Regions from separate parts of the Homo sapiens genome. Here all the other regions are linked to region 1. Evidence: fine-mapped expression QTL. A gene starts in region 1. Each other region holds a variant in brackets. All regions are shown on one strand. Distances are between the middles of the regions.

Region 1 (5,228 bases):
GCCAATGAACCAGCCTTGGAGAAAACACACCCAAAACACACAGACACCTATCCTTCATTTCCTGGCAGAAGCTATATGATTCTATCTGATTAATAAAGTGTTCAATCTCCCTCAAGAGTTATTCAGTATCCCACCCTAATTGCTATCAATTTAAAATTCTACTACCTCAGATTATTTTAAAAGAAACATTCTGGGCTTTCTTTAAAAAGCAGAGCGCCATATCATTTGTGGCCGATCTGCAGAATGTAAATGATGACAAGTGGAGGGAAGGTGAGGAACAAGCAGAAGGGGCCCCATTAACCTCTTCATAGGCCAGTTTGCAGGCTGCTTCCAAACTTAAAACCAGAGAGCTGGGCCCTCGAGGAGGGAAGACTGTGGATGTTGCTATGGGAATGTATAATACACACTTTGGGATACTGTTTTTCCACTTTCTCTCCCACTCTCTCTTTCTCAAAAGACAGGGAAAACACACCTGAGAGAAAACGCCAGCTTAAGTGCTACTTGTAATTCACACAGAAGTTCACCCTTGAGTTCTCTCAGCCTGGTTCCTATTTGCCTTCAACTACCTTTGACTTTGAATAAACTGCTGGTATAAAGACATAGAAAAGAAAAGCATCTATCAGCACACAGCTCCATCAGAACACAGGACACGGCAAGAAAGCATTACTCCCCCCATACTCCACATCAAACTCAAAAACAATGCTCCTGGCTGTCATTTTTCATTCATGCCAGCCCCGTATTTCTATTAAACAAACCTCCTTTTTATTGACTATTTCCCTCACACAGCATAATAAGGTAAACGTGAGCCCACAAAGACTACATGGTGAAACACAAAGCTTTCCTCTGGGAGGGGAATCAGTAAAAGGCAGAAGAGGACAAGTTTCAAGGGCTCTTCCTAACTGGTGTCTACCAAATGGAGAAATGATGGGGCTGCTCCTCTGCCAGAACTGCTGTGATTGACTTGAAATTAACCAGCTTTCCAAGAGACTACATGAAAAGAAAGAGTATTTCACAATCTTGAATAGTCTCCTCTCTTACTCTCTAATTTTCCCCAACCACCCTTACTCCCACCCCCCACTTACAAGAGAACTTTTGTATACATAAAGTTTCAAGGAACAAAGCATACAAACACTCACACACAAATAAACTCCCCAAACTAACACCAGCGTATAATTGTGTTTTGGTTGGAGCTTTTCCAGCCCTGTCACCTGTTCTCTGTTAGGAGTAAATGAAACCCTTTGCTTTTGCGAAGTTAGAAACAGACAAACTCTTCTCAGTTTCAAGCTGCACAAGGACCCCCTCATATCTTTCAGCCCCCTCAAACCCCCAACGAAATGAACTCACTGCTGAAAACCCAGCAATGAAAAAAAATTAATCTATTTCTCAAATACAGATTTTCGCTTCCCCTCACTCAGCTTCCCCTTTTAGCCGGAAACATATAGCGTTTCTAATTTCTCAAACCCCTTTTCAAGGGACCCTCCACTCAGGGCTCTTCCAGGGATCCCGCTTTCAGTCTTTCTGATGCAGGCAGGCAGCCCTTTTCCAAGCACATTTTGCATTCTTGGAGTCCAAGTGGGGCTCTTTCGTTTCCAGAGAAAGCTAAAAAGCAGACTTAGTGGGCTGGCTGAACTAGGTCCGACTTTTCCTCCCCTCCCCTCTGAACGGCTGCGGGGGGAGAAGGGAGCCCAAGATGAGACCCGGGCTCCGCTTATCCAGCTCCGACTTGGCTTCGAAGGCGCAGGGCAAGCGGACAAAGTGCCCACCGCTCACTTTAAAACTCCCATCCTCTTCTACCACTGCCTTCCTCCAAATTCCTCCGCAGAACTTGGCCGGCCCCCAGGAGAAACCAGAATCCTACCTTCCTTGGATTCTTCTGCTTCGGAGTGCATAATGTCAGGATAACCAGCTGCAGGGGCGATTACCGCTCACATGTACTCGGACGAGCCGCAAGTTCGCTCTGCAGCGAAATCCGCACACGACGGAAAATAAAAGGAAGAAAGCCACTAAAATCAAAACCTCCCCGGGGCGGGAGAGCGGGTTCTGGTGCAGGGATTTTCAGGGGGAAAGTTCTGCAAGAGTGACGAATCGCGTGTCAGCTGGGCGGCGGGAGTCCGCCCCCGGAGCCGCGCGCTCGGGCCGGCAGCCGGGCGGAGGCGACCTGGCGGGGCTGGCTCGGCCCGGGCGCACGCAGGTGGGGCACAGGCCCAGACGGCAGCCGACTCTCCCGAGACACAGGGCCGAGAAGAACCGTCGGCAAACGCACCAGACGGGCGGAAAAAAAGGTATAAAAAGAAAAAAAAAGTCTCATCTCAGAGCACACTGTAGTTTTACATAAATAGCAAATGCATATAGGGTAGAACCAATGCCTCTGTATTTTTGGATTACATTTTTTGATGCCCATTTGACTTTGTCTTGGAGTCTTGCAACCCAAAAATTACGGATTTTAAAGCGGCTTTGGTATGTTATTTTTGTAGGAAAGTCGCATGGATATCGTCCATGGGGTTGCAAGGACCAGCTTAAGAGAGCACAATTTCACAAGTCCCAGAGCGGGGCCTTTTGAAGAAAGTGGAGCGGCCTCCACCCTTACCTTTGCACAGCAAAAGCAGACGGGGCTGCTTACTCATTCAGTATAGCCCCGGGCGAGCACTGGTACTCCAAGCACAGCCCGGGCACTCATTGCTGCAGTTACTCCAAAGGGCCTTCCTCAGGGGGAGAGCACGGTTCCCTCCCGGCTACCAGCAAAAACTGGGGATGAATTCCTTCAAAATGCCAAAGGGGAGGTTTTCAGGATTTGAAATGCTGATAGAATAAAGAAGCCGGACAGCCTTCACAACAGATCTCAATTCTGCCCCCGGGTCTGGCCCACAGGCCCCTACAAATTGGCTGAGAGGAAGTCCCCTTAGCTCTGTGGAGCCTTGGTTTTCCCTTCTGCAAAGCGGGGACAAGAGCTGCCACTGATAGGCCTGTCTTACGGAGGTATTTTGTAGAACACTTGTTTTATCGCCAGTCTGAGGCAAAAAGTCCTCAAATAACATATCTGAAAGATCCGCTTGGAAATTATGAGAAAAAAATATACTCTTTTGACAAATTTATTTTCCAGTTCGTTTCTTTTTCTTCGTTTCCGATTTTATATAGGCAAAAACCAATAGAAACACTATGGCAAATTTAGTGAAAAGAACGTACAAAAGACATGGATTTAAGGAGTCTGAACTTAAATCCAGTTCTGCCATCTATCATTTGTATGACCTTATGCAAATTAACCTCTCTGAGCCTCCAGTTCCTCATTTGTAAAATGAAGATAAAAATAGTATTATTTACTTCACAGATTTATGTCTGTATTAAATAAGGTAATATAAGCACAAAGGGATTTGAAAACCATAAGGACTACATAGATTATTACCATTGCACCATTAAAAGTAAATTTTTATAAAACATACTCTTGGGTTTTATTTCAGTATTGACTTTGAACAGAAAAGAGTGCTTATGCTATTCACAAGCAGTGAAGGCTATTATAAATATTAATGTAAGAGGTCTAGATATTAAATCACATCCTACTGCTGAGAGATTCTAACCTGCCTAAGATTCTAACATGTTATCTCAATTTCACTGAAAGAGCAGGATGAAGGGAGGAAGATATAGCCAGCCAGAGAAGGGAGAAGAGGAGAAACATCTGGAAAATATCAGTGTTGCAGAGCCTCCCGGAAACTGACCTCGCCACCGAAAGGGTAACAGACTGCACCCTTCCGAAAGTCACAGTTAACTTCATGGTCCCCTCTGCCACACATCCTGAGTCAGGAGCTGCTGATATGTATACCTTGCACTCAGTAATCTCAGACTTATGGGGAGATACACTGAGATGAGGATGATTCTGAACCCAAAGAAATGCTCCCTCACCAGTCACAAGTGGCTTTTCCTGTCCTGCCCAAGTCAACATTCTGCCCCTCTCTCCCTATACCATCTATCCTTGCCCTTCCTCACTGCAACCCAGATGTCCACAGATAGTCCACAAGAGATCTTAAGGGATCTCACCAGGGCCGTGTGCTACACAAGAGAGCTTCCACTGATCTATAATTGGGGTAAAGCAACACCTTTTCAAGGTGATGATTATGCAAATCCAGACAACCCAAATTTCAGGCCCAATCTGCCTACAGCAGAATTACTTTCACTCTCTTCTTTTAGAAAGTACCCTTACAAGAAATATTTATTAAATGTCATTTTGCAAGTCCAACTGGGGACAAACCACATAAGATATGTTAAAATACATGTCCTTTAATGTGCTACTTGTTTTACAACTGCTGAATGAATAGTTCAAGCGCTCCGTCAGCCTTATAATTCATTTTAGATTCATGTTAGCTTCGTTGATCTTTGAACATTCACCATCGGCCTCAGGAAGCCTGGAGAGAAACTTCTTTTGTATTTAAATGCAAGCAAGCAGTCACCTTGGGGAAGAATGCTCTGTTTTAGCTCAAGAGCAATGAATGCTCAGCTTATTTTAAAAGGCTTTATGTGAATAAGTACATTCCTCAGTCTCCCGTATAACCTCAAAGCCATCTGCTCTGGGCAGGCTGCATTGCCCCATACCCCTACCCTGCAACATGGTGACAAAGGGCAGCTGATTCTCTAGGGCTCCCCTTGGCCTTCTGCTGCTCTCAGATATGTACTAGGTCATTTTGATTTTGCTGTGCTTTTATTCAAAAGGGGATAATTTACTTCTTAGCCCCAGTGAATAATGGTCCAGTACATCATAATGATTTGTTATCTCCTGTAGGTGGGACTTGTTGATTCTTGTATGTTTAAGAAACACCCCAAACATCCTTCACATGGCAACATGTATGGAAGTCATACCAACAAACTATTACCGCCCGCCTGATACAAAATTGCAACTAAGTTAGCAACACTTCTCATTTAATAACAAACTGTACTTAAATTTAAATACTATGTTGAACTCCTGCAAGTGTCTAATAATGGAACTCCCACCTTTTGTGTCAAGATGGAAGAATGAAAATGGTAGCTAAGATTCTGAAGGTTTATTCATTCATTGAGGTATAATCAAATATTTGTGTGTGTCATATGTAAATTGACCCTACTCACCTGGGGCTTATTGACATAATTTTGTTAATTTGACCACAGACCTAAAGAACTCAACTTTCCAAGTCACCTTGGTTCTAAGGAAGGTTTATTAACACCAACTCTCGACTGAACTTTATCACAGGGCAGCAGAAAAATCT
Region 2 (5,228 bases), 31 kb after region 1:
AAACACTCCTCTGCTTTCTCTTCATTTCCAGCCCCATCACCCCAACCTCCTTCAGGCTCATCCTCTGGCCTGAACTTCCTGTGCTTCTTACTTAGTTGTCCTCATGATACATTTTCTCAAAGCACAGCCCGATCACCCTTAACACTGCCATGTGTACCTAGAATTAAGTTTAAAAAGCACTTCCATATCCTCTCTCACCATGTTACCCTCTGATGAGGAGCACGCAATGCTTCCCTGCTGCTCAGGGGTCTGAGTCCATGAGTCAACATAGGACTTAAAGCAGTCCCCAGTCCTGCCCCCACCGTGCTTCACTGTTTTGCCTCTGGGCCTCTGCTCACCTGCTTTCCTCAGCCCCTCGGATTCTTTCCATCATCACCAGCTGCAAAACACTGCCAGTCTCCCAAGGCTCAGCTCAGATGGAGCCTTTCATGACACTGTAGCCAGTCACTGCTCCCACTCCTGCATCTCCGTGATATTTGGACACTTACAGCATTTCCCACATTTTGCTCCAAGAGATAGCCATGTTTGGCTCCAAGAGGTAACCATCACTATACACACCTCATCAGCCCTATTACACCACACATTCCTAAACGACAGGGTGATTTCTTCATTCATTCAGCATGAATGAATCCACCTGCATTTACCTAGTACCTACTGAATGGTAGGCATTGACTTAGATGCTGGGGACATGGGAAATGAAACATAAGGGGTTGCCTGTGTTACAAAACTGACATTCAGTGGGAAAAAGCGGCAGCAGACCAGTAAGCACATACATAAATGAAGGACGGATTGTGAAAGGTGCTAGGGCAAAAATAAACAGGAGGTTCTGACGGAGACCACTCTAGCAGAAGTGGCATTGGAGGTATATGCTGAAAGCCACAGGAATAATGGTCTGGGCAGCAGAAAGAGCAAGTGCTACAGCCCGAGACAGGACAAGCCAGGCATGCTTCAGGGGAAGGAGGGGACAGGGGCTGGTGTGGCTACAGTGACGGAAGCAAGGGGAGGAAAGCTGTAAGAAGCAGCTGGGAGGCCAGGCACGGTGGCTCACGCCTGTAATCCCAGCACTATGGGAGGCCGAGGCCGGCGGATCACGAGGTCAGGAGATCAAGACCATCCTGGCTAACATGGTGAAACCCCATCTCTACTAAAATACAAAAAAAATTAGCCGGGTATGGTGGCGGACGCCTGTAGTCCCAGCTACTCGGGAGGCTGAGGCAGGAGAATGGCGTGAGCCCGGGAGGCAGAGCTTGCAGTGAGCTGAGATCGCACCACTACACTCCAGCCTGGGCGACAGAGTGAGACTCCGTCTCAAAAATAAATAAATAAATAAACAAATTAAGTAATTAAATAAAATAGAGCAGCTGGGAGTTAGGCAAAGGCCAGAATATGTAGACCATATAGGACATGGTAAGGAGTTTATATTATATGACAGGAATGTAAAACAGGACAAACATCTGGAAGGCAAAGTGACAATAAAGATCAAAAACCTTAAAACTCCACAGGCCCTTTGAACCACTTACAGGAATACATCCCATGAAATAGACAGAAGTGTGGACAAGTGCAAGGAAACTGCGCGGGGTTATGACAATGACCCCATATGAAAACTTTTAGAGCCTAACTATCCACATGGGGACTGATTAAGTAAATTATGGCACATCCATATATGGCATGTAATGCAGTCTTTTTTTTTTTATTTTTTATTTTTTAAGAGACAGGGTCTTGCTATGTTGGCCAAGTTGGTCTTGAACCATTGGCCTCAAGCAATTCTCCTGCCTCAGCCTCCCAAAGGGCTAGGATTACAGGTGTGAGCCACTGCGGCTGGCCAGTAATGCAATCTTTAAAACCGATCTTGCAGAGTATTAATAACATGAGAACTCTTCACAAAGGCTACAAAACAATATATAAAAGCAAAGAAATTATATTAAGCCATATATAATTTTTAAAGAGAAAACTATAAGCACACAGAAAAGCGCCTGGAATGATGATATGCACAATATATTTTTTTCTGGGTAGTGACAATAAGGAGTGCCTCTTTTTTTTTTATTGGTCAAATTGTAGTTGATAAATACACTACACAAACATGTAATACTGCTGTGATAAGGAAAAAAGGTTTCAAAAACCCTGTGAGTTACAAGGCATAGCAGAGAGGATATCCCATGAAATCATATAAATAAATAGAGGCTGCCAATCAGGAGGCGGCTGGGGCAATCTTCTGTCTTTTCAGGGAATTTTCAAAGCGAAACAGAAAAACAAACCATAAAAACTCCCTAGAACTTGGGGCAGGAAGTGTGTCATTCCCTTTTTGCTTATCCCTGTGACTCAGCAGTGACTGGAGGCCCCTCTGATCCATGCACGAAGAAGTTAAAGATAGGAGTTCTGAGAGGATGGAGACTTAGAAACCTCACCCAGGAGCTCCCAGCCCCGAGGGGGAAGTTGGGAATGTTGAACTTGGAACTTCTTCTTTTTTTTTTTTTTTTTTTTTTTTTTTTTTTTTTTTTTTTGAGATGGCGTCTTGCTTTGTGGCTCAGGCTGGAGTGCAGTGGCGCGATCTCGGCTCACTGCAGCCTCCACCTCCTGGGTTCAGGTGATTTTCCTGCCTCAGCCTCTCGAGTAGCTGGGATTATAGACACTGGCCAACACACCTGGCTAATTTTTGAATTTTTGGTAGAGATGGGGTTTCATCATTGAACCTGGAACTTCTAAGGAAAAAAATATTCTCTATTCTTTTTTAGAGTCATTACAACAGCAACCAACAGTCTTACCTATAATGTTACAAATTAAACATGATTAAGCTTTTGTCTATTTCCTTTAAATAAGATTTACTTCACAAGACCCAAACCCACTGTTGTTCCAAGCCTTCTTCCCAAACAGGTTTGAAAGTTTAACAAACATTCTAGACAAGTCTCAACAAGTCTCAGGTATTTTGATCCTGGCTTACACAAGCTCAAATTGAAGGAGTTTTACTGCAGAAGCCCATTCAGCCAATTTATGCCCCTGTTCCCCACTGGGAAGCAAAGATGATTTGGTTCCTGTGTCCCCATCTGGCAGCCTCCTAAGCTCAGCACTCAGCCAAAGAACACAGATTACAACTGATTTGCTAACAGAAGCCCA[C/T]ATGCTTCTTTTAGTCCATTTTTAATAACCCTCTGGAAACTACAGAGTGGAGGGAAACATACAGAGCACTATAAAACAAAACAGCAACTTTTGACTCTGGAATCATTTACATTTTTAAGGTAAATTAAATTAAAATGTGAGGACATACAATTAAAATCCAGGACCACTGCCTTCCTACCTTTATTTAACAAATATTTATTGAGGCCTTACTGTGCCCTATGTTAGACTCTAGGGTAAATGACAAACAAGTGGCCAGAGATGTGTATGTATGCAGGGTGGGGTGGGAATGTGCTTGAGGGAGGCAGATATTTCCGAGAAACTCCAAGAAATGCAGCCAGCTTGGGAACAGGTTATTAAGGATCTTATAAGCCCTGTTAAAAAGTTTAGATTTTATCAAAACTCTAATGAGGCATTTTAAGCAAAGGATGATGCAATCAGATGGACATTTTATGAGGCCAATAGCAGCATAGGATGTTAGACTGGAGAAAGTGTAGGGGGTGCAACTGCCCTTTAAGTAACCTAGGAAAGAGATGGCAGCAGTGGCTTGGTCTTAGTTGGTGGCAGTGCACAGTGACAGGCAGTATATAGAGTGTACAGCTATTCACGGGAGAACTGACTATACTGACAACTGATTGGGCATAGGGGTAAGGCCAGAAGCAGCAGCCTTCCAAGTTTCGAGATAGTTACCTGGGTCATTGACTAAGGGGAAAAGTGAAAGAGAAGGCAAGTTCAGCTTTCTTCACATCAAATTTGAGTTGCCTATGAGACATCAAAGAACATTTTCTAGCTAGACACCCAGGTCTAGAACTTAGACAAGAGCTTGGGCCTGGAATGTAAGTTTGGGAGGCACCGGCATGTAGAGAATCTGAAACCCTAGAAATGGGCGGGATCACCAGGGAGAGAGTCGAATAAGAAGGGCAGAGAATCCAGGTGGAGCCTAAGAAATACCAACGTTTTGATATTGGACAAAGAGGAAGAAGCCTGCAAAGAAGACCAAGGAGGGGCACAGAGAAAACGGGGAGGAAAATCAGGAAAGTGGATTATGGAGGACCAGTCTGTCTACAGAAATGGGAGCAGCATGGACTCGTTTGGAATGGTCAGGAAGAGAAGTGAAAGGTCCCCACCTAGCATTAAAATGCCAGAGGCTGCTCAACTTCTCCACGCCTGTGTATTTCTGGAGTTATTGGTAAACAGCAGGGGGCCAAATGGGAGGCAGCAAGAAGAGAGCAGGTTCTGAGATAAACTTAGCAGGAGATCCTGGCCATAGCCAGCATGGTCTGCTCAGAGGCTGGAAAAGGGGCCAAGGTCCTGGGACCACTCCTCAAGGAGTAGCACTTCATCATTCAGCCACAAGTATGTATAGGTCATTTACTGCGTGTGAGCACTGCTGATGGTGCTGGGGATAGAGCAGTGACAAAAGTTCTAACAAAATAGCTGGAAAAACAGGATTTTGAGTGGAGATAAACGCTGTGGAGGGAAAAAACAAACCAGAGGCAGGGGCTAGAGAGTGGGTGGGAGAGAGGAGCATTTTGGATAGGCTTTCTCCTGGGGTAACATCTGAGCAGAAACCTGAGAAAAATTAGAGAGAGAGCCAAGGAACAATCTATAGGGAAGGGGCTTCCAGGCAGAGGGAGGGGTGTGTGCAAAGGCTCTGAAGTAGGAGGAAAGAGCTTGGGAAGTTTGAGGAACAGCATGGTGGTCAGTGTGGCCTGACTGAGGCAGGGAAGGAGGGAGTGGGAGGAAATTAGGTAGCAGAATTGGGCAGAGGCCACATGAAGGGGAGCCTGTAGCTCCTGGTAAGGAGTGGGGAGTTTGTCCGTTGGAATGGAAAGCCGTGGGGGGTTGGAGCAAGGGAATGACTGTGATCAGCGATAAGACCATTCTCATTGCACAAGGACTGTCTGAGAGTGACAGTGCAAGAGCACAGGGGAGTTAGGAGGCTTCTGAGGCTACCCAGAAGAGAAGTGATGGTGGGAGAAGCAGTGAGATTTAGGATGTGCGTATTTGCTAGGGCAAGTGGAAAGAACTTGCTGCCAGGTGAGCTGTGTGATGAGTGAACAGAGGAATCAGGATGCCTCCTGGGCTTGTGGCCTGAGAGCTGCATGCACGAAAGGCAA
Region 3 (5,228 bases), 190 kb before region 1:
TCCCCAGTAGCTAGGACTACAGGCATGTGCCAGGCTGGCAATTTTTTTCATTTTTTGGAGAAAAGAGTTTCACTATGTTGCCTAGGCTGGTCTTGAATTCCTGGATTCAAATGATCCTCCCACCTCAGCCTCCCAAAGTGCTGGGATTACAGGTGCGAGCCACAATGGCCAGCCTCAAATTCTTTTATGTCAAGCCATCTGTTTAGATTTTCTATTTTGTGTCAATGATGTAAAAAAATCATTAAATTTATACAGCATTTGAAGTTCATTGGCATACAGTTAAGCAAAATACTCTCCTTTTTAAAAATTAATTAGGTAAGATTGTGAGTTAGCTATTTATTACACTTTGTAAAGATCAGCCTGTTGATTTGTTTGTTCATTTAATTATTTATTTACGCTAGATTTTTTATTTTCAACTCTCTTCTTTTTCTGCTTTTATTATAAATAATTCCTTTGCTCCGCTTTCTTTGGGTTTGTTGTTTTTCTAACTTACTAAGTTGAATGCTTAATTCATTTATTTATATTCCTATAATTAGTATAAGAATTTTAAACTATGAAATTTTCCTTTGATTACTGCTTTAACTGTATCCTGCAGTGTTATACCATTTCCATATATTCCCGTATGCAGACATAATTTTATAAAATAAATGTAATAATATGCAAGCTTTGTTAATATACCTTTTTCCTTCTCCTTTTGCTTGGTCTCCCTTTCTCCCTCCACTCCTCTCCCCTCCACTATAATCACCATACCCTAACTGCCACGGTAATCTTTGCTAACGACATAATGTGTTGGGATACATTTTTCCTATAGTGAAAAATCTTTCTCCGTCATTCTGCTTTAGGTGTGTATTATTTTATAGCATATAGTTGAATTTTCTTTTTTTATGTCACTATTGTATTTTCCCAATATTTAAATTGCAAAAATGTTTGAAAATACAGTAAACCTGAAAGAATTTTACACTAAGCACCTCTATAACCACCTCCTGAATAATTAACGTTGTACTATTGTTACCAGTGGAGGGTGTCCAGGTACTTGGCGTTTTGAACAAAGAATTGGACAAAATGCACAAAGCAAGGAAAAAATGAAGCAACAAAAGCAGAGATTTATTGAAAACAAAAGTACACTCCACAGGCTGGGAGTGGGCTTGAAGATAGGGGCTCAAAAGCCCTTTTACAGAATTTTCTGGGGCTTAAATACCCTCTAGAGGTTTCCCATTGGTTACTTGGTGTGCGCCCTATGGAAATGAAGATGGCACACAACTACTTCAGAGCCTGAAGTGAAGTTACAAAGGTTACACCCTACGCAAGCATGTGATTGGTTGTGGAAAGCAACCAAACAGAGGCTAAAGTGAAGTTACAAAGTTATACTTCTATGCAAACGAAGACTGGGCCTGCAGTCAGTCTGATTGGTTGTGGAAAGCAACCAATCAGAGGCTGAAGTGAAGTTACAAAGTTACACAAACTTACAAAGTTACACTCCTATGCAAATGTCCGATTGATTGCAGAAAGCAACCAATCACAGATATTTTCAATTTTCCATCTGCCACGCAGAAAAAGGCGGGGAGGGGTTGCAAAGGGAGTAGTCTCCATTTTTTTTGTTACTTATGTGTGGAAAGTTGGGGTTTTCCTTTTGATTTAGTTCTAGGAAGTCAGCGTGAATTGGCCTTAGGTTCCTTGCCTCCAGACTCCATTTTTCTGCCTCATTACGCTTGTGGCGTCACATCTGTCCATCTGTCTATCCCTCTATACATCCCTCTTATTTTTTTATGCATTTCAAAGTAAATTGCAGATATCAGTGCACTTTATCCTTTAGTGCTTTGGCAAGCATATCATGGATGAGAGTTTAATATTTGTTTATAGTTTTTTCTCTTAAGAAAAATTTATATATACAATCAAAGGTATAAATCTTCAGTGTAAAACTCAATGTGTTTTGACAAATGTATTTACCTGTGTAATGCAAATTCCTATTCAAGATGTAGGATATAACTACCAGAGTTCTCTCATGGTCCTTCCCAAGCAATCCAACCTTTCCTCCTCAGTGCAACTACTTTCTGAACTTTTCCACCATATTTTAATTTTCTTGTTCTAGAATGCCATATACTTTTTTTTCTTGTTTTTGAGATGGAGTCTCGCTCTGTCTCCCAGGCTGGAGTGCAGTGGCACGATCTCGGCTCACTGCAAGCTCCGCCTCCCGGGTTCATGCCATTCTCCTGCCCCAGCCTCCCGAATAGCTGGGACTACAGGCGCCCGCCACCACGCCTGGCTGATTTTTTGTATTTTCAGTAGAGACGGGATTTCACTGCGTTAGCCAGAATGGTCTTGATCTCCTGACCTCGTGATCCGCCTACCTTGGCCTCCCAAAGTGCTGGAATTACAGGCGTGAGCCACCGCGCCTGGTCATTCAGTATATTTTTGAGACTTATTCATGCTGCTTAACTATTTATTTTAGAGATGTAGGGGCAGTGGCTCTTCACAGGCATGATCATTGCACACTGCAGCCTCGAGCTCCTGGGCTTAAGCGATCTTCCTGCCTCAACCTCCTAAGTAGCTGTGACTACATGTGCACACCACTGAACCTGGCTTGTTAACTTTTTAAATGGTTGAGTAGAATCCCACTGTATCATATACCATCATCTGTTTATCCATTCCCTAGTGGATGGATTTTAGCTATTAAAAACAAAACTGTTGTAAAAATTCTTATATAAGCCTTTTTGTAATATGTTTTCATTTCTCTTGAGAAAGTAGCTAGAAATTGAATTGACTCACAGGAAAAGTGTATACTAGTTATAAAAAAAAATGCTAAAACTTTTTTCTAGACTGGTCATACCATTTTACACTGCTACCAGTGTATAAGACTTCCAGTTGATCCACATGCTTACCAAGATTTGGTATTGTCAGTCTTTTTAACTTTAATCATCTCAGTTAGTATGTAATGGTAGCTTACTATGGTTTTCATTTTCATTTCCCTGACTTCTCATGGTGTTGAGTACTTCTAATGTGACACGTGGCATGTCCTAATCATTTGCCCATTTTTAAAAATTGGGTTATTAATGAGCCTTACTATTTTTAATATTTAAAAAACAGTGGGAAGAATGGGATAAATTGTATGCATGGTAGTTCCAACATCTCAACAAGAATCGCAAGTTGTATGCCAATCATTTTGT[T/C]TCATTAATATACTTTATTTGGTTTAAAGATTATGAGATAGAAAGAGCCTTAAAGGAACAGGAAGCATATGAAAAGACAAGTTAAATGATGAGCAAAGTGACTTAAAATAGCTATTCTCTAATGGTGAAAATTTTACGTGAACATATTTAAATAAGAATGGCAAAAACAAAGCTCCATTAGTAAGCAAAATATAAATAAGCAACTTTTTTAAGTATTTGTTTCTTGACCCTAGTTCTGTCCCTTGACATTCATAATTGAAAAAATTTTCCTGAAAGGCATTCATACTTTCATAAATTGTTTAAGGCAAATAAATATGACAGTTCTTTCGGCTGGAACCACCATCTTCCAGTAATTCACCAAAATGATGAAGACAAAGGCAAAGAGGAGAGGCACCCGATATATGGTCTCTAAGCGTTTTAGAAAACAAGAGTTTTTCCTTTGGCCATGTATATGCAAATCTATAAGAAAGGTGATATTGTAGACATCAAGGGAATGGGTACTGCTCAAAAAGGAATGCCCCACAAGTGTTATCATGGCAAAACTGGAAGAGTCTACAATGTTACCTGGCATGCTGTTGGCCTTATTGTAAACAAACAAGTTAAAGGCAAGATTCTTGCCAAGAGAATTAATGCGCTTATTGAACACATTAAGCACTCTAAGAGCCAAGATAGTTTCCTGAAACGCGTGAAGGAAAATAATCAGAAAAAGAAGCCAAAGACAAAGGTACCTGGATTCAACTGAAGCGCCAGTCTGCTCCACTCAGCGAAGTACACTGTGAGAACCGATGGGAAGGAGCCTGAGCTGCTGGAACTTATTCCCTATGAATTCATGGCATAGTAGGTGTTAAAAAAATAAAAGACCTCTGGACTGTAAAAATGTTTCTACTCATTGAGTAGAAGTGTGGTGTCCTCTTCCCGAAAGAAATATTTAAAGTAAATTTTAATTGTCTTTATCCATTGAGTAATGTCTTTACTATTCCAATTTAATGTATTTCTTGCTCAAAGAGGTGAGGTGGCTTACTGTGGAACATATTACTCAATTGGTTAGAAAACAGCCAGATATTATTTATGAAATATTTGTACTGGTTTGAAGATAGTCCCACTAAATCATCATGGAAGAAATAAAATAATTTACAAAAATTTTTTAAAAATTAAATTTTTAAAAAAAATAAAGCTGACAGTTGAAAATTTTGTTTTCTAAACCAGTGGCTCTCAGCACCTATATCCAGTTTCCACCCTGCAAGCTAAATCCAGTTCCTAGCCTGTTTTTTGTCCAGCTAGCAAACTAAGAATGGCTTTTTCAATTTTAGGTTTTTCTTTTTGTTTTGTTTTTTTTTTAAGAAATACGGTACAGAGACCAAATGTGGCCCACAACGCCAAAAGTCTTTACTGTGTGGCCCTTTACGGAAAATGTATGCTGACCCCTGATTTAACCCATCATTGTTCTTTACTGACAGTCCTGTAACTTCAAGAGATTAAGGTGTATAGAGCTGTTCAACCTCACTTCAAATGACACTTCTTAGTCTGTTTTCTGGGTTAATTTTATGACTTCTTCCATGCTGCCTACAAAAACTACCCCCAGCCAGTGCTCCCTGCAACAACACATGGTTCTTTCTACTTGACTGTTTTTCCATTCTTGTGAGCTGTAGGCTTAAAAGTTATGTAACCAAGCTTCTTAAAAGATGGATTTTGAATGAAGCTACAAACAGATCTTACATGGTTAAATTTTGAATTTTAGTGCCTCAACACTCGGCAATCTCAGGTTATCTTTTTTTTTAAGCTACGTTAACCCTGATGTCTAGAAATCACTTAATTGGGCAACTTCAACCAACATACCATGTATACATGTAATATAAATCTAGACTCATTTTTAGCTAAGGCTTGCAATTTCTGTATTTTGCCTATTTATGCATTGTAAAATAGGTTATTTTCTATCCTCTCCCCTCATAAAAATAGCTTAGTCCACATTGACCTAAAATGTTCTTCTCTTCAGAAAATCACTTTCCATAACTGTCAGCTTTTGAAGTTTCTGAACTTCAGAATTTCTCAGTGGAACTGGATTAT
Region 4 (5,228 bases), 42 kb before region 1:
AGACTGGAATTGAACAAAATTCTCTCAGGCTGCTGAAGTCTGTTGCTTCATTTATTTTAGACTCAGTCTTCTTTTCATCGCTGATTTGGAAATAGTGAAAGGCCACCCGTAAACAATACCTCACATAGGAATAGCCTTCAGGAGGTCTCAGAGCCTTCCATGTCTTTAAAAATTGTATCTTTAAAATTAGAATATGAGGTAATTGCTCTTATGCAAATTTCAGAGACAACATGAGCGAGCTCCCTGGCAGGCAGAAGCTGGACGTCCTGGTTTCCTAACTGCTCCCACAAATGCCCTCTGTACCCTGCTGGGTTCCATCTGGCCACACTCCAGTGCCTCTCCCAGAGGAAGGCATGCCAAATTCCTGACACGTGGCGTTTGAAAATACCATGGAACGTTTCCACTCGTGGATTTCACCATGTTCTCCAGTGAATATTTTAGCAAGCTAAAAATGTGACTCCTCGGTCATGAGAACACTAAGTCCATATGATTCGAAAAGAGCAATAATGCTGGAACTTTGATCCAATTATCAGCAAGTCCTCTTCCAGGAGATTAAATGTCTTATAGTATTTTATAATTTGCTTAGCAGGTATTTATCCTTTAGTGAAAACCAATGGTCTTAGAAGAGAGCAGCAAAAGATGCTGACAAATCATTTAAATGGCTAAGTGGTCATTCTTGCTGGCCTAATAAAAGTCCATTTCTAGGAAGACGAAACCTCAGCTTCTTATAAATCATCAATTATCCCAGATAATGGTAACAATATAGATATTTATACTCTGAGTTTTTATTTCCGCGTCTTGTGTTTCAACTTCACATCAGGTTGGTTTTTAAAAATTTATTTATTTACTTCGAGACAGAGTTTCTTTTTTTTTTTTTGAGACAAAGTCTCACTCTTGTTGCCCAGGCTGGAGTGCAGTGGTGTAATCTTGGCTCACTGCAACCTCTGCCTCCTGGGTTCAAGTGGTTCTCCTGCCTCAGCCTCCCAAGTAGCTGGGATTACAGGCATGTGGCACTGCACCCGGCTAATTTTGTATTTTTAGTAGAGATGGGGTTTCACCATGTTGGTCAGGCTGGTCTTGAACTCTGGACCTCAGGTGATCCGCCCACCTCAGTCTCCCGAAGTGTTGGGATTACAGGCATGAGCCACCGCACTCAGCCTGGCAGTTTTAAACGAATGAATTCATCTGTAAGCTTTTGAATGGAAAAACCAAAGTAGAAAGAAACATATTGTCTTACATTATTCTACAAATCAAAACTTTTAAAAATCAAATTGTCTTTCTTGTATTAAGAACAAACCGCAAGTGCCTGATCATCTACTTTATTTCCACGAGGCAGAAATACAGTTATGCAGCTGATGTCAGGGAAGGCGGAGAATTTCCTCAGCCATCCATGAAGAAAGATAAGGGGCCTTATCCACTGGCTGTCTAATCTTATAAAGATCTCATGCAAATTTGGTGGACATAGGGCACAATTCTCTATCCTTGAAGAACATTTTCCAAAGCACAGATGTTTTTCTCTTAATTGTGAATGCTGACTGACTTGTCCATATCCTTTCTCAGTGCTCAGCAGATGGTACGATTTGGGACTCGCTTGTTCCCTATAACGTGGGGCTGATGTTCTTTGCTACGTGGAAAACACATCTTTGGTGAGACAGAAATGAATCAATATTACACAAAAATGTTTCCATTTCTGGAATTTCCCTGAGATAAAAATATCTTTCTGGCTTTGGGTATACATAAGTGACCGTGCAGACACTTAGTAAAAGAGAAAACAGATTTTCAATACTTCGTGGTGATGGTGACTATACGGGATTATAAGTAGTTAAAGGTTTTCCTGTTGCATCATTTTGGAAACAAAAAGCTGACTCATTTTCTGGTTAATGCTTCAATATTTTCATTAGGGAGTTTCTATAAAGTTTTTATCTGAATCACAGAAAGTACAATTATTTCAGAGGTAGGATAAAATTTTTTCTGTCATAAACAGCACTGTGTACTAAAACCTGCTATGAGTTTAACAAATCACCTAGAAGCCTAATGCTCAAGAATGCAATATATCAAGTAAAACACTGAAAAGTTCAACTAGTTTAGATAATGCAAGTATGGAAATGCAAGATTGACTAAAACTTTTAAATATTATCACTCTTATTAACATGCTAATTTAATTCATTTTACTGGAGTATTTTAATTTCCTGGCAATTGAATAGCACTTTTTACTACAAATATTTCATCATTTGGATAAACATATTCTTTTATTTACCATTTGTCAGGTTTTGTATGCTAAATTGCAACTGCTTATATACACTCATCAAGTATCTCAAGGATAAATTAAAATTCTTAGTAAAAATCCAACTGACCGGTACAGACCACAAAAAGTACTATTTTAAGCCTTTGGGGGCTTAAAAATTGTGTGTGTGTGTGTGTGTGTGTGTGTATTCACATGGTGGGAGAAAAAGAACTTTCCAGATAATTGTGAATGGCATACTATTATATAAGAGTTTAAAACGCAATATTTCTGTACGATCAAAGTTCTTAACTCATGCTTTTTTTTTTTTTTTTTTTTTTTGAGACGGGGTTTCGTTCTTGTTGCCCAGGCTGCAGTGCAGTGGTACAATCTCAGCTCACTGCAACCTCTGCCTCCCAGGTTCCAGCGATTCTCCTGCCTTAGCCTCCCAAGTAGCTGGGATTACAGGTGCCTGCCACCACATCTGGCTAATCTTGTGTATTTTTAGTAGCAGTGGGGTTTCACCACGTTGGCCAGGCTGGTCTCGAACTCCTCACCTCAAGTGATCCTCCCACCTCCGCCTCCCAAAGTTCTGGGCTTACAAGCATAAGCCACCGCACCCACCCCATGCTTTACTCTTAAACTAATTTTGAGTTGTATATGAAAGGCCTAATAATCAGAAAAAGGCTATTTCTTAACTTAACTTGCTCAAATATTTTGAGCCTCCAAATCTGGAAAATAATGTTGAAGTTTGAAACTGATGCCGTGCCTACTCTAGGGAGCACAGTACTGAACTGCTGCTTCCTTGCTTCTCTTGGTGAATGCACATTGAGTGCCTTGTCAT[G/C]CTCTGAACCCACCACTGCTAGGGACAGCTGTGGGGGAGCAGCTCACTGCACCTCAGAAGTCAACGTTAAAAGTCATTGTGAGCACCTAGAAGTGAAGTTCCACGAGACAGAAAACTGAGCCACAAGATGCCCCCAAAGTAGGAGTCATGTTGAAAACTTTGAAAAATGTCTTTGTACAACATCTACACAGATCTTTAGAGAACAGGCCAGACCTGTGCTGACTTAGGTACTGCCTAAAATGTCACTATATGAGGAACCATTTCAGCAGCATACTGCCCACGCTTCTCTGAGCCAAAGATGTTCCTAGCACTGCCTTTAGCCATATCATCTTTAAGTGAAAATAAGATTTTATACATATTCCGGCTGGGACACCTCGAGCACATGTGACCTCAGGAAATTCCTTAACTTCTATTCCCCTAGTTTCCTTATCTATAAGATGGTGAAGATTGTGGCAGAATTAAATGAGTTAATGTGCCCGACACATAATACAAACTACTCTGCGTTAGTTGTCCATTAGTATTATCATCCACTTATCATATCCACTCATAATTTTTGCAGAGAAGCCACCAGCACAAAATAAAATCAATTACAACACAATTTTTTTCAAAACGTGAACAGATACTATTTTATAAAAAGGTTCATAGGATCCCCAAATTAGTATTAACTCGGCTCAGATTTATCTACCCTAAGCACGTGGGGATTCTTCCCAGCTCCCACGCTCCTTGCCACCCTAAATGCTCAAGGGGAGTCCTATTGTATTAGAAATGAACTTGCTAATCACGACTTTGGACCTGATCCAAGACATGCTTTTCAGGCACAGCACTGGTAAGGAGATGGGTCCCCTCCAGAAAATGCTGAGAAATGGTAGCAAACAGGATTCCCTCCTTCGGTCTACTCCTCACTGCCTTCCCTCTGTGGGAGATGAAGCATTGCTCCCCCAATCCCATGCACATTTGATTGCTAGCCTGCTGGCACAACCCTATGATCCAGTGTGTCCAGAGAGATCCAGATTTCTCCCTCCGTACGTTTTCTCTCTCTGGTTGGTCCTGTCTATAGCTACAGATGAGCAAGAAGCATCCATGGACTGCCCAGGGCTTTCGTTTCCCATACCTCTGCTGTTTGAGATCTGGAGAACAGAACACATCCAGTCAGTAGCTCACACCCCCCATCACATTCTCAGCCTTCACATGTGAGGAAAACAGCTGGTCAAGGAAGGCTGCTGAATTCCATTTATAAGCCACTTAGCAAGTTATGAAGCTAGAAGGGTCATTTCTGTAGTCACTGTGTTATTGTTACAGCATATACTGATCACCTACTGGCTCTAGGAAGTGAGAATGATACTTTCAGTTCAAATCTTAGTGTCAGGATTTAATATCAAACAGGAAGAAACTCTACACCTTTGCTGCTTGTCTTAGCCAAGCAAATGAGGGTGTCAGAGAAACTGACCACCCTCTCTAGGCTGAAATGGGTTAGAGCAGATCTCAACTTCTGGAATTTTTAGTTGTGGAACCTTTCCTGGTAAACTATTATTTTAATGTCAATATTCTGGGAGGCAGGCAAATTTAAGGCAAGAGAGTACACTAAATCATAGGCACAGTGGCTCACACCTGTAATCCCAACACTTTCGGAGGCCGAGGCAGGCAGATCATTTGAAGTCAGGAGTTCAAGACCAGCCTGGGCAACATGGTGAAACCCCATCTCGACTAAAAATACAAAAATTAGCTGGGTGTGGTGGTGCATGCCTGTAATCCCAGCTACTTGGGAGGCAGAGGCAGGAGAATCACTTGAACCTGGGAGGCAGAGGTTGCAGTGAGCCAAAATCATGCCACTGCATTCTAGCCTAAACAACAGAGCGAGACTCAAAAAAAAAAAAAAAAAAATCATAGACACAGTGACAATGGAAATGTTTATTGCTGGTGGTTGGGTCTGTCATTTCCTAGAGGACATAGCTGGCCAGCAGATTTTCATTTCTTTTTTACAAAATAAACAAATGCCTACTTTATTATTTATACACAGAAAATTATATAGAAACACCACACAAACTGCTTGAAATACAAATATTCTTTGGTTTACTTATCAAAGTAAAAAATAACAAAAATCTTATCAGTTAAATAAAAAAGTGACATTCTTTATCAAGCCTTCTTAAACACTGAAACGCACGC
Region 5 (5,228 bases), 23 kb after region 1:
TGGCTCTGATCTCAACTCTATATATGCAATGACATACAGTCACAGACACATAACCATTTTTTTTGAGACGGAGTCTCACTCTGTCACCAGGCTGGAGTGCAGTGGTGCGATTCTCGGCTCACTGAAATCTCCACCTCCCAGGTTCAAGCAATTCTCCTGCCTCAGACTCCCAGGTATACACACACACACACACACACACACACACACACACACGAAAGGATCACATGCACAGCTCTAGGCATCTAGTAGACGAATGTACATTTACTATAAATGATATGCAGGTGACCACATTCCATACAAGAGAAGTCAGGACTCTATGAAATAATATTTATTGGCTGCCAAGGGTTCAATAATGGACCAAAAGATTAGCTATACCAACACCCACCTATGTCTTCCAAATTCTAGTTTTTCCCTAGTATTAAATTTAAGCTCCAAAAAATCTGTTGAGCAGAACAATTTTAAGTAAACCTAAGCAAATATTATATATCAACTTGAACAAAAGTGTATAAATACCAATATAACTTTAAGGGCTATTTAAAACACTCTATTCTAATCCTTGATAACTTTTTCAATTTACTTTAAAAATAAAATTAAGTCTACTTGTGGGAGCATTAAGTATGGCTAAAAACAAACCTAAGGTGTTATTTTAAAAGTACAAAATGCTTTATATGTAAGGTAAACCGTTTTTTTTTTTTTTTGGTTGTTAGAGAAAATGGCAACAGCAATATTCAAACAATTATCCAATAAGAGAATAGAAATAAACAGCCTTGTGTTTACGGGTTGCCCCACGGTGTTACCACTGCTACCAGACCACTGGGAACCAGAGGTGTCCTACAGTTAATAAACGCATGGAAAATGTAAAAGAGAAACTCTGAGTGAAAAAGCCATCCAATCTTTTCAGAGTCCCATCTCTGAAACATTTCAAATCTTTATCTGTTTACAAATGAAACTGTCTACATGCAAACTTTAAATGTCATTTTTCCACCCACAATACTCATACCTCTCCCTGCTTAACACTGGTTCCCCACACCCAGAGCCATAGCAAAACAAAACAAAACAGTGATTTGTTGAACACAGTAGCTCTAAAGCCACGACCAAACATTATTTCCTTGAAGACAGCAATACTATGTTAGTCATCTGAACATTTTACCAGATTTCAACAAAGACATTATATCTAAACATATTCTGAAGGCCGTTTTAACTCACCTAGTTTCAGCATTTTCTCCCCGTGTGCAATCAGAAGGACAACTTCACAGTATCTTGGTAGAGTCATACAGACTTGAGGAATGCATGCAACCACCCTGTTGACGTGTACACTATGGAACCTGCATCACCCTCGGGGAGACTCAGTCCTTCTCAAGAATAATTCAAAATAATTTATACTATTCTTTTGAAAAATCTACCATAAGCTTACCACATAAATGCACAGAAGGCACTGGTCAACTACAGTCACTTTGAAAGTTGTCTTGCTTGTTATTCTGGGAGCTAGGTTTCGTCACTTGTAGTGGAATGCATTAGGTAGCCTTTAATTGTGAGTCCAGAGAGGTCTCCACATTCACAACAGGGATGGACTGGTTGCTGCCTGCACTTGCTCCCTGTAAACTACAACTACATAGAAATGCAAGATTACCTGTGACAAGCAAACAGGAGTATATTCAAAATCAAGCAGAAACAGGAAGTCTAACGTTTCAACATGCTAGAAAATAGAAACAGATACTTAGAAAAAAAAAAAAACTAAAAAAAAGGGAGAGGCCCCATTCACAGATGCCTGAAAAAAAGAAAATAAAAAAAACACCTCATTCCTACCTGTATAAACATGAACGTCTATTAATAATACGTATTGCTCAGAGGTGTTTCTGTTCTCAGGAGAACTAAGAATAGAGTTTGGACAATGTTGCTACTTAAAATCATCAGCCTTTTGCTTTGGAAGAGTATATAAGGTTTTCATAATGAATGTAAGTGTGAGTGTATCCAGGCATACACAATACACACATGTACACATACACATACATGCATTTATACAATCTAATAGTTTCTTTAGGAGCCTGTTTATTTACGTGGGCATTTGGCAGTCATTGCCACCCACAAATCTTTCCTTATCCACTCCCCCAAGTAAGATTCAAGTGTACCACTTCTAAGAAGGCTTTTCTTTGGTGATCCCTATTAGGTATGTATGATCTCAATCTCTTCCTTTAGCCCCTACTGCACCTTGGTTGACCTTTCTTGGTAACACTTTTTGGTATCTATCACAGCTGTCCTTATATTATCTTCAGTTGTTTATCTATCTTACTCTCCCTACATGGTAAGCTTCTTGATTTTATTTCTATACTCTGTAGCAATAACACTCTACCTTGAAACTACCAAGCACCTAGCAAAAAAAGTGGAAGGTGATGGACAAACTCTCCAAGGTCTGGTTCAGAGTCTATTTATGCCACCTTCTGGTTGTGTATACGTGCAAGTTATTTAACACCCCTGAATAATTTTGCACTTCCGTAAGATGAGAATAACATCATCAATGTCACAGAATTGCTATTAAGATTTAACGAGAACCACGTGAAGCAAATAACATATTGCCTGATGCACATAGAGTTCTCAAGCAGTAATGAGCATTATTATTGACCTAAATTAAAATCAAATGCCCAATACTAATTTGGGAAGGAGGCCAAAAGAGATACCAAATCAACATCAATTTACAAACATATCTCTGTATTTCTTATTTTCTTTGGCCTACATTATCATGTGACTAACTCATAGCGATATGACACTTATACCTTAGAAACCATA[T/A]TTTTGTGTTCTTTTGTGTTATCTCCCCAAATTCTGACTGGCCCTTCATGCCATGAAAACATCAGGGACTAAGGGTCAAAGAAGATGTCAAGAGAAAGCTCTTCCTGGAAGTGCAGGACCCTAAATCACAAGGACTTCGCAGGCTGTGACTCACTGGCAATTCCAAGGGTAAGCTACAAAGAGCAGAAATACTGCATCTAAACAGTGGAACAGGCCTCTCACATTTCCCTAAAATGTGACCTCAGTGGTGGCTGCATGGCTAGGTGGTCACTAGGAACCACTCTTTCCAGTTCTGCTAGGGGAGGATGGGGCAGTGCAGTGAGGCTGCAGGAAGACAAGGCTGGAGGAAGAATCCTGCAGTCCTATGTGAAAACAACTGCCTTCATGGCATCAGGGCCCTTACACATGCTCCAGGCCCAGTCGGGGAGGCACCAGCAAGGTCCCAACACCAGGCAAGGGCAGAGGACATGGTAGCCTCATGTATCCAGTGGGCACCTCTACACCCAGCAGGAAACTCCTGGTTTTGGAGAGAGCTCTCCAAAAACAGGAGAACAAAAAGCAAAGCATCTGCACAGACATTTCCCTAAGACACTCCTTTTCTCTCACTTGAGACTAGAATGCCCAAGATATCCCCGGATCTATTCAAAGTGTGCTGTTTAAACCAGTCCCAGCAGTTAGCATCCTGCTTATCCTACTTGATTTGGGAACAAAGAAGAGTCATCACAGACATAGGCTAGAGAGCAGGGAGATTCTCAAGTAAGTATTTGTGAAGCAGTCAAACCTTACAGAATAGCCTTATGTTTAAAAAAAAAAAAAAAAGCTAATATCTCTTTGTAGATATGACTATGCACAGCACTTCCATGCTTCCCTAGGACTTGTGAATTAAGACACTCTAGGTAGGTTCAGGGATCAACATTGTGATGATTGCCCAATGTGGATGCATCACCCATGCTTCAAGGCAAGGAGGAGAGTGGAGGCAGCCAGGACTTCCAGCCCTAGGAGCCCTGCCTGGTGGCCTAGTGGCTGAAGAATCTGTCCAGGCCTAGCTTCGTGAAAGCAATTTGTGCTCAGGAATATAGTTGGCTCTTGGCCTTTTTCTTGGTGGGCACAACTCTGCAGCAGAAGCGCAGGGCTAATCTGTACCCTAACCCCTAACCCCCAGCCCCTGAGAGTGCAACTGGCATTGGCAGTCATGGAGGTAGCCTGGAGTGTCACAGTAATACCAAATAAGCTGTCATTAGGGAAGTCTGCGGCCACCTTATCTGGTACTTCTTCTCTATCTCTCTGCAAACACATGATGGTGGCCATGAGAAAATGAGATCCTTCCCTTCCGTGTGTGTGTACTCCACGTTATCTCGGCATCTCAGAGCAAGAGACTATCACTTACATCATTTCACTCTCCCCACACCCTGCGAAAGTGGGTGGCAATCCCAGTTTCCAAAGCGAGTGTCAGAGCAGAGAGGTTAAGCAGCATATTCAGCAGGACCCTGCACAATAGGACAGGGCTGAGAGGAGAGGCCATGAGGCCTAACCCCTACCCTCCCAGAACAATCTCTAGACACACATGCTCTCGCTGGCCTAGTTTCATCAACTGCTTATCACATACCCCAAGAAAAATATTTCCTTTATAGCTACCCACATCCTTATCAGAAGCACATTCAACAAAATCATCAAAAGAGTGATGACATTTGTGTCTGCATAAAAAGATACTTTCATTTGTTTATTTCATCTAATTCTACAGCCTCAGACAGAACTGGAAATGTCTACAAAACACCTTGGCCTTTATGCTTTGGCATTCCCAGGACGTTCCCTAATCCCTAGTGCTTAATGCCATGGCTGCCAAGATTAATTTCATTTTCTTTCTGTTCAACCTTCCTCTCTTCCCATCAGTCCTCTCTGTACCCTCCTCGTATGCTGAATCCTGCCCATGCTAACTCTTTCAATGGCGTGCCTAAACCATGGCGCTAATTATAGCTTCCCCCTCCTCTATTCAACTTACTCCTCTTTGTCTCTCTCCTCTTCTTCAAAGAGGAAAGAGTCATTGGTGAAGCAGGGAGGAAGGCAGGCTGAGAAGGAATTATTCCAGGAGACTCAGGGACTGAGATAAACAATATGCTCAGAAGCGTTTTCCAGATGGCCTAACAGAGACGGCGGATGGTCAGACTCACTTCTCACATAAAGGAGGCCTTGCACAGCACAGGATTTCCCCAAACCTTGTCTGGACATGGACTTGCATGGTCCATGTCTAGACAAGGCTGGGGAAATCCTGCTGCTAAGCACCTGGAGATGTCCACAGTGTGCATGGTGCTCTCACTGTGGTCCACTCACTCCTCGCCAAAACCCTGGGAGGTGGGCGTCATTATCCTCGGATTACAGGTGTGGAAACCCAGCTCCATAAAGTTAACATATCTGTTCAGCAGAATGCTGGGATATGAGCCTACATC
Region 6 (5,228 bases), 52 kb before region 1:
CATGTGCTGGTTGACCTGTGATAAGGATCATTAGTATTCATTTGCTCAGTACTGTTTCAGTCTCTGCCCATATCTTTCATTAATTTCTATAGTCACCAAGTCACATACACACAAATCTCAAGGAGACAAGCCAAGACAATGACAACATTTGATGACAACAACACAGATCTCAGATAATAACTGTTAAGGTGATAAGGGAAACTTCAGGAATCCCTGGGGTGATAGAAGATGTTTATTAGCACTGTCTTTAATTCATCGTAGTACAAGGCATGTTATCAATACAAAATTTACATGAAGTAAGTCATTTGTTTCAGGTGTTTACCTGAAACATATTGAGTTCCCTCTTTGAGCATTGCAATAAAGTAATTACCTTTTGCTCCCATCTGGTTCTTATATTAACTACATATAATCAAATCAATTATTAAGTGGTTCATCAGAAAGAAGCAATTGTCCTTCCTAATGAGACATCGTCCCCAAACTTGCAGAGCAACAAGCAGAAATAATGAAAATATAACAATTCTTCCCAGGAACAACATCCCTTTTCCTCAAAGTGATGCAGTTCTGTCCTGTCCTCTGCAGCTTGCCCCTGGAAAATCCCACTGTCAGCCTTGTGAGTGATTCTGGGAGTACTGACTCCTGGGAACTAGATCTCCTGATGAGCTCAGACTTTCAGTGAACTACTGTGAGCACAGGGGCCACGAGCAGGGGCTTTGGACTCAAATCCTGCTAGACTTGAGTGTGCACAGGGAAGGGGACGTCAGTGTGCACAGTGGCTACAAGAACAGGCACTGGATTCAAACCAGCTGCCACCATTTACCAGCAGGTGTCCTTCAACAAGTCCTTTCTTTCTGACCCAAGTTTTCTCTTCTGTAAAATGATGGTAAGAGTTCTCACCTTCTGGAGTTGTGACAGAGACAAGACAGTGCACAAGAGTGTTTAGCATACTGCCAGGCACATGGTACTAAATGAGGGTTAGTCTCAATTAGGCTTTTTGATTTGTGTTTTGTTGGGTTTTTTTTTTTCATTTGTGACCAAGAGGCAAAACTTGGCCTGACTCCTTCCTTCCATCAGGAGAAGGTCTGTCACTGACAACTTAACTGAGCAAGGGAAACACCATTGGATAACCTGGCCCCTCACTGAGACTAAGAAACAACCAGTATTTAGGTTTCCCTTTGCCTACCACCTTAGAAGAGCTAGAAAACAAATCTGTGAATCTAAGGAATGTTTCAAAAATCCAGAATCCTCTTTCTAGCGAGTTGGTGCTCCCAGTTTACATTTGACTCTAATTCTGACTCAAAGATGTGATATGATCCATCATCACTCAATCCAAAAAGGAAAAATTTAGAGCATTATTAATAGCGATAGCTTCTATTTATTGAGGATGTACTTGACATCTTGTTCTGAATGTTTAATATCAATTATCTCCTTTAATGATCCTTTGAGATAGGTCATTTTACAGATGAAGAAACAGAGGCTCAAATAAATGAGTAACTTTCCCAAGCTCCAGCTATTAATACAAGGCTTGTTTTCTTAACCTGAGGACACTTTGCAGACTTACAAAATATTTTAAATTAATGATCACAAATGCTTAAAAATAACAAATCTTGATTTGAATCCATACATTCTCATGATACTTCTGGATAGACTTTAATTCTGAGTTCTGGCTGGTCCGTCTCCACTGCCCATGCCAGGTGCTCTCTAGTCTGTTTCTAGGCAAAGTGTTCATGGACTAGAGGTTTCTTAGGTTCCCTCTCTCTTCTCTAAAAGAGCAAGAACTGACTGGGTGCAGTGGCTCACGCCTGTAATCCCAGCACTTTGGGAAGCCAAGGCGGGCAGACCACGAGGTCAGGAGATCGAGACCATCCTGGATAAAATGGGGAAACCCTGTCTCTACTAAAAATACAAAAAATTAGCTGGTCATGGTGGCACGTGCCTATAGTCCCAGCTACTCGGTAGGCTGAGGCAGGAGAATCGCTTGAACCCAGGAGGTGGAGGTTGCAGTGAGCCGAGATCGTGCCACTGTACTCCAGCCTGGGCGACAGAGCGAGACTCTGTCTCAAAAAAAAAAAAAAAAAAAGCAAGAACTTTCCACAGGGAATGCAAAATCAACCTAGCAATATCCTGTATCAATAAAGAGACTTTACTCAAATAGGCTTAAGTGAAACAAAAGAACCAAAATGTATTGTCTCTTGAACCTGAAGAAGCCCAGGGGAAGGCTGGCTGCAGGTGTGGCTGAAAGAGCAGCTCAGAGGACAGCATCAGGACTCCCTTTCTGCCCCTCTCTTGGCTCTGCCTTCCAGATTCACTTTTTTCTCAGGCTGGCTGTTTTTTCATGGGAGCACATTGATTGCAAGAATCTCCAGGTTCCTAACCTCATAGTTTCAAGTCCAGTGGGAAGAGAGAGTGTTTTCTTATATGTATCTCAAGCAGAAGTCCTAGGTGCTCTACAGTCTATCCATTATGT[G/A]TTCACCCCTGCATCAATCCCTGTGGTGAAAGGAATGAAATGCTGTGATTGGCCAGATCCAGCTCATGTGCCCAACTGTTATCAGAGGTGACATTGGCACATGGATAGAGCGTTGGGGAAGGGTGATAGCTCTAAAGAAAAACCGGAATGGGTTTGTTTTGTTTTGTTTTTTGAGACGGAGTCTTACTCTGTCACCCAGGCTGGAGTGCAGTGGCGAGATCTTGGCTCACTGCAACCTCCGCCTCCCGGGTTCAAGCGATTCTCGTGTCTCAGCCTCCCAAGTAACTGGGACTACAAACATGAGCCACCATGCCTGGCTAATTTTTTGTATTTTTAGCAGAGGCAGGGTTTCGCCATGTTGGCTAGGCTGGTCTCGAACTCCTGACCTCAGGTGATCTGCCCCCTTGGCCTCCCAAAGTGCTGGGATTACAGGTGTGAGCCACCATGCCCACCCCAGGATGTTTTGAACAGTAGAACAAGGAATGGATACTGAATAGTAAATGTAAACAACCACAAACATACATGACTATAGATCCAAATGCCCTATAAGTCTAGGGATTCAACCATATATATTTTTAACTAAACTCCAGGCATGCAGAAGAACAATAATATATAACATTAGAAATCAGGACAGTCCCTAAAATGCAGGCCAGATAACCAATGCCAACATATGGGCAGAGGTCCTATGTTCTGGCAAAGTACGGATTTAATCAGTTAATATAAAGCACCTTTCACTCAGCAATTATTATGCCAGAATTAATATGTGAATCCAGAGTAATGTAACAAGTGCCAATCATCCCTCTCCCCTCCCACCCTGCTACCTCCACACACTTGGTCAAGACCTTGGAAATTCCAAGATTTAAACAGAGGAGCCATAATAGAGACCAAAGGGGGCAGAGGTAAGCAGATAAGTTTCAGCTTGTCCTAAAGAGCTAACAGAGAAGAAAGACTTTTGTCAGATGGTGCTCATATGGCTGGTTTACATATTGCGTACATGGAATTTATGTCAAAGCTACAGCCAGAGACAAGGGTGACGCAGAAGGAACAGACCAATCACCTTTCTTGGAGCTGGAATCCACCAAGAACATGATCTCAGCCAGACATCAGGGAATGAGAAGGGTCATTGTTGAAGGGAGCCAGCAGAATGTTAAGACGGAATTTGGTTTTGGTCGGATGAAACTGTTAGCACAGCCCTGGTCCCCTTGGTTAAGTGTGTTATTATATTCCAAAGTAAAGAGAAAGACATGAAAAATGATAATTGGTGAATATTTTCAAAATGAAGATGAACATTTCACTCCAAATCTAAATCTTCTTCACATAAAAACTGCTCATTTAAAATGGTGCAAGGATTAAGCAAGTCTCCTAAATAAATTCCCTCTGCATCAGATTTCTTCTTTAAAACAGTCTGGATGATTGCTAAAGTGCATTTCAAATCTAAAATTCAACCACTAGAATATCCTTAGGAAAGGCAGCTGCCAACTACAGAGGTATCTCAGCCCAGAGACCTGGCTTCAGCCCACACTCAGCACCACTCCGTTACCTCCACATCCCCATCCACATCCTCCGGGCAATGACAACGATGGTGGTGGTGGTAACAGTAATTGAGCACTTGCTATATGTGAGGCACTCTTCTTTACACAAGTGCTTCATGTGGATTATATATAAATACTACAATGATCTCTCCTTAACAGGTGAAAATAACGAGGGGCAGAGAAAATAAGAAACCAGAACAAGATCACAGCCAGTAAGTGGCTCCCCCTTCATATGTTTAACAATCATCTGATCTGTGGATATGATAGTAAGGATCTCAATTTTCTGACTTTCAGCAACAAGCTAGTTGTTACATCTAATAAATATCAGCATTCTAACTTGGATCTTTGCATAAGCAAGCCACACATAGGTAAAGACAAGACTAAGGTGAGTTAGATAATTTTTTGAAGACAGCTTTCTTTGACCCACCATAGAACATACTGCAATTGAACATCTGGAACCAGAAGAGAATACTGAAGATTCACCTCAGCCACCCACCCTTCTGGGAGTGCTAGGGTGCTGTGCACAGAGCAGGGGTCTGTGTCAGTCCTGGGTTCAAGCCCTTGCTCTGCCCCCTGACCAGCTGTGTTGCTGAGAAAATGTGTAATCTTCTCAGTGTTAGTTTCTCTTCTGTAAAAGGGAATGACACCATATATCTCATGGTAAGAGGGTGCTGTATACAACATCTAGCAGCCTTATGTTAGCACACAGCAAATGGTTCGTGATCATGGCATCGTACTCAGGGTGGGGATGTCTGAATCCCGACATCACTATGAGAAGATAACTGCAGAAGGAACGGAATTGACTGCAGACAGGAAAGGATTAAAGTTAGAGATACTAATTTGATCTCTGCAAAAACTTATCTTGACTACCTCAGATGTGCCACTTTGTCTTTTCTGGAACAAAGAATAATTTTATCATCTGTGAGAACTCACGTCAAAGCGTCCCTTGATACACTCTCACTTGTAAACAAAAGTTTTCAGACTGGAACTTGCAGCAGCCCTGCTACTAGTGAGAAAAAGCAGAGGGTGGAACAGGCAGGACAATTGGCCTCTATTGTCATGCAAATAATTTCAGAAATGTCACTTCTTGAGATACTGAAAAGCTGATGGTGGTGGTTCATCGTACCTTAGGGAAACAGCATTTAAGCATCCCTGTTCAAGCTCATTAGTCTTCTTGATCATGTCTGCTTCCCCTTCACCAAAGTGATCCCTAAAAATAGCTGTTCCTCCCT

Which allele goes with the higher level. Positions count from the first base shown, and alleles are read on the strand shown. Sizes are in standard deviations (SD) of each study's normalised expression. Not every link is listed here.
For the expression in cerebellar hemisphere of the gene that starts at base 1,961 in region 1, T is the high allele of the variant in region 2 and C is the other (large effect, 1.3 SD a copy in GTEx).
As copies of A replace G in region 6, the expression in B cells of the gene that starts at base 1,961 in region 1 goes down (small effect, 0.34 SD a copy in Fairfax 2012).

What was found. PIP is the estimated chance that this variant, and not a neighbour inherited with it, causes the effect.
Region 2: its variant is fine-mapped to the expression of TNFAIP8 in cerebellar hemisphere (GTEx, PIP 0.97).
Region 3: its variant is fine-mapped to the expression of TNFAIP8 in whole blood (TOPMed, PIP above 0.99).
Region 4: its variant is fine-mapped to the expression of TNFAIP8 in whole blood (INTERVAL, PIP 0.97).
Region 5: its variant is fine-mapped to the expression of TNFAIP8 in whole blood (INTERVAL, PIP 0.93).
Region 6: its variant is fine-mapped to the expression of TNFAIP8 in B cells (Fairfax 2012, PIP 0.95).

The regions. Positions count from the first base shown.
Region 1 is chr5:119,352,752-119,357,979 of GRCh38, reverse strand. TNFAIP8 (TNF alpha induced protein 8) reads right to left here and starts at 1,961. Exons shown (of 2, transcript NM_014350.4): 1 at 1,859-1,961. The coding sequence starts at 1,889. It overlaps LOC102723444 (a long non-coding RNA gene), which reads left to right and starts at 2,207. Exons shown (of 5, transcript XR_007058912.1): 1 at 2,207-2,282; 2 at 3,614-3,725. RefSeq lists silencers at 1,275-1,334, 1,132-1,426, 2,055-2,214 and an enhancer at 2,865-3,004.
Region 2 is chr5:119,321,548-119,326,775 of GRCh38, reverse strand. It overlaps a transcript of TNFAIP8 not described here. Among named protein-coding and RNA genes, the nearest start is that of TNFAIP8, 32 kb to the left of the region's middle. The variant C/T (reference allele first, on the strand shown) is at 3,112.
Region 3 is chr5:119,545,905-119,551,132 of GRCh38, reverse strand. It overlaps the pseudogene RPL21P58. Among named protein-coding and RNA genes, the nearest start is that of FAM170A, 81 kb to the left of the region's middle. The variant T/C (reference allele first, on the strand shown) is at 3,165.
Region 4 is chr5:119,394,330-119,399,557 of GRCh38, reverse strand. It overlaps TNFAIP8 (TNF alpha induced protein 8), which reads right to left. Exons shown (of 2, transcript NM_014350.4): 2 at 1-5,228. Among named protein-coding and RNA genes, the nearest start is that of TNFAIP8, 41 kb to the right of the region's middle. RefSeq lists enhancers at 1,658-1,707, 1,988-2,037, 4,472-4,521. The variant G/C (reference allele first, on the strand shown) is at 3,066.
Region 5 is chr5:119,329,610-119,334,837 of GRCh38, reverse strand. It overlaps a transcript of TNFAIP8 not described here. Among named protein-coding and RNA genes, the nearest start is that of TNFAIP8, 24 kb to the left of the region's middle. RefSeq lists enhancers at 1-11, 1,389-1,438, 2,049-2,098. The variant T/A (reference allele first, on the strand shown) is at 2,785.
Region 6 is chr5:119,405,036-119,410,263 of GRCh38, reverse strand. No RefSeq gene overlaps it. Among named protein-coding and RNA genes, the nearest start is that of HSD17B4, 45 kb to the left of the region's middle. The variant G/A (reference allele first, on the strand shown) is at 2,465.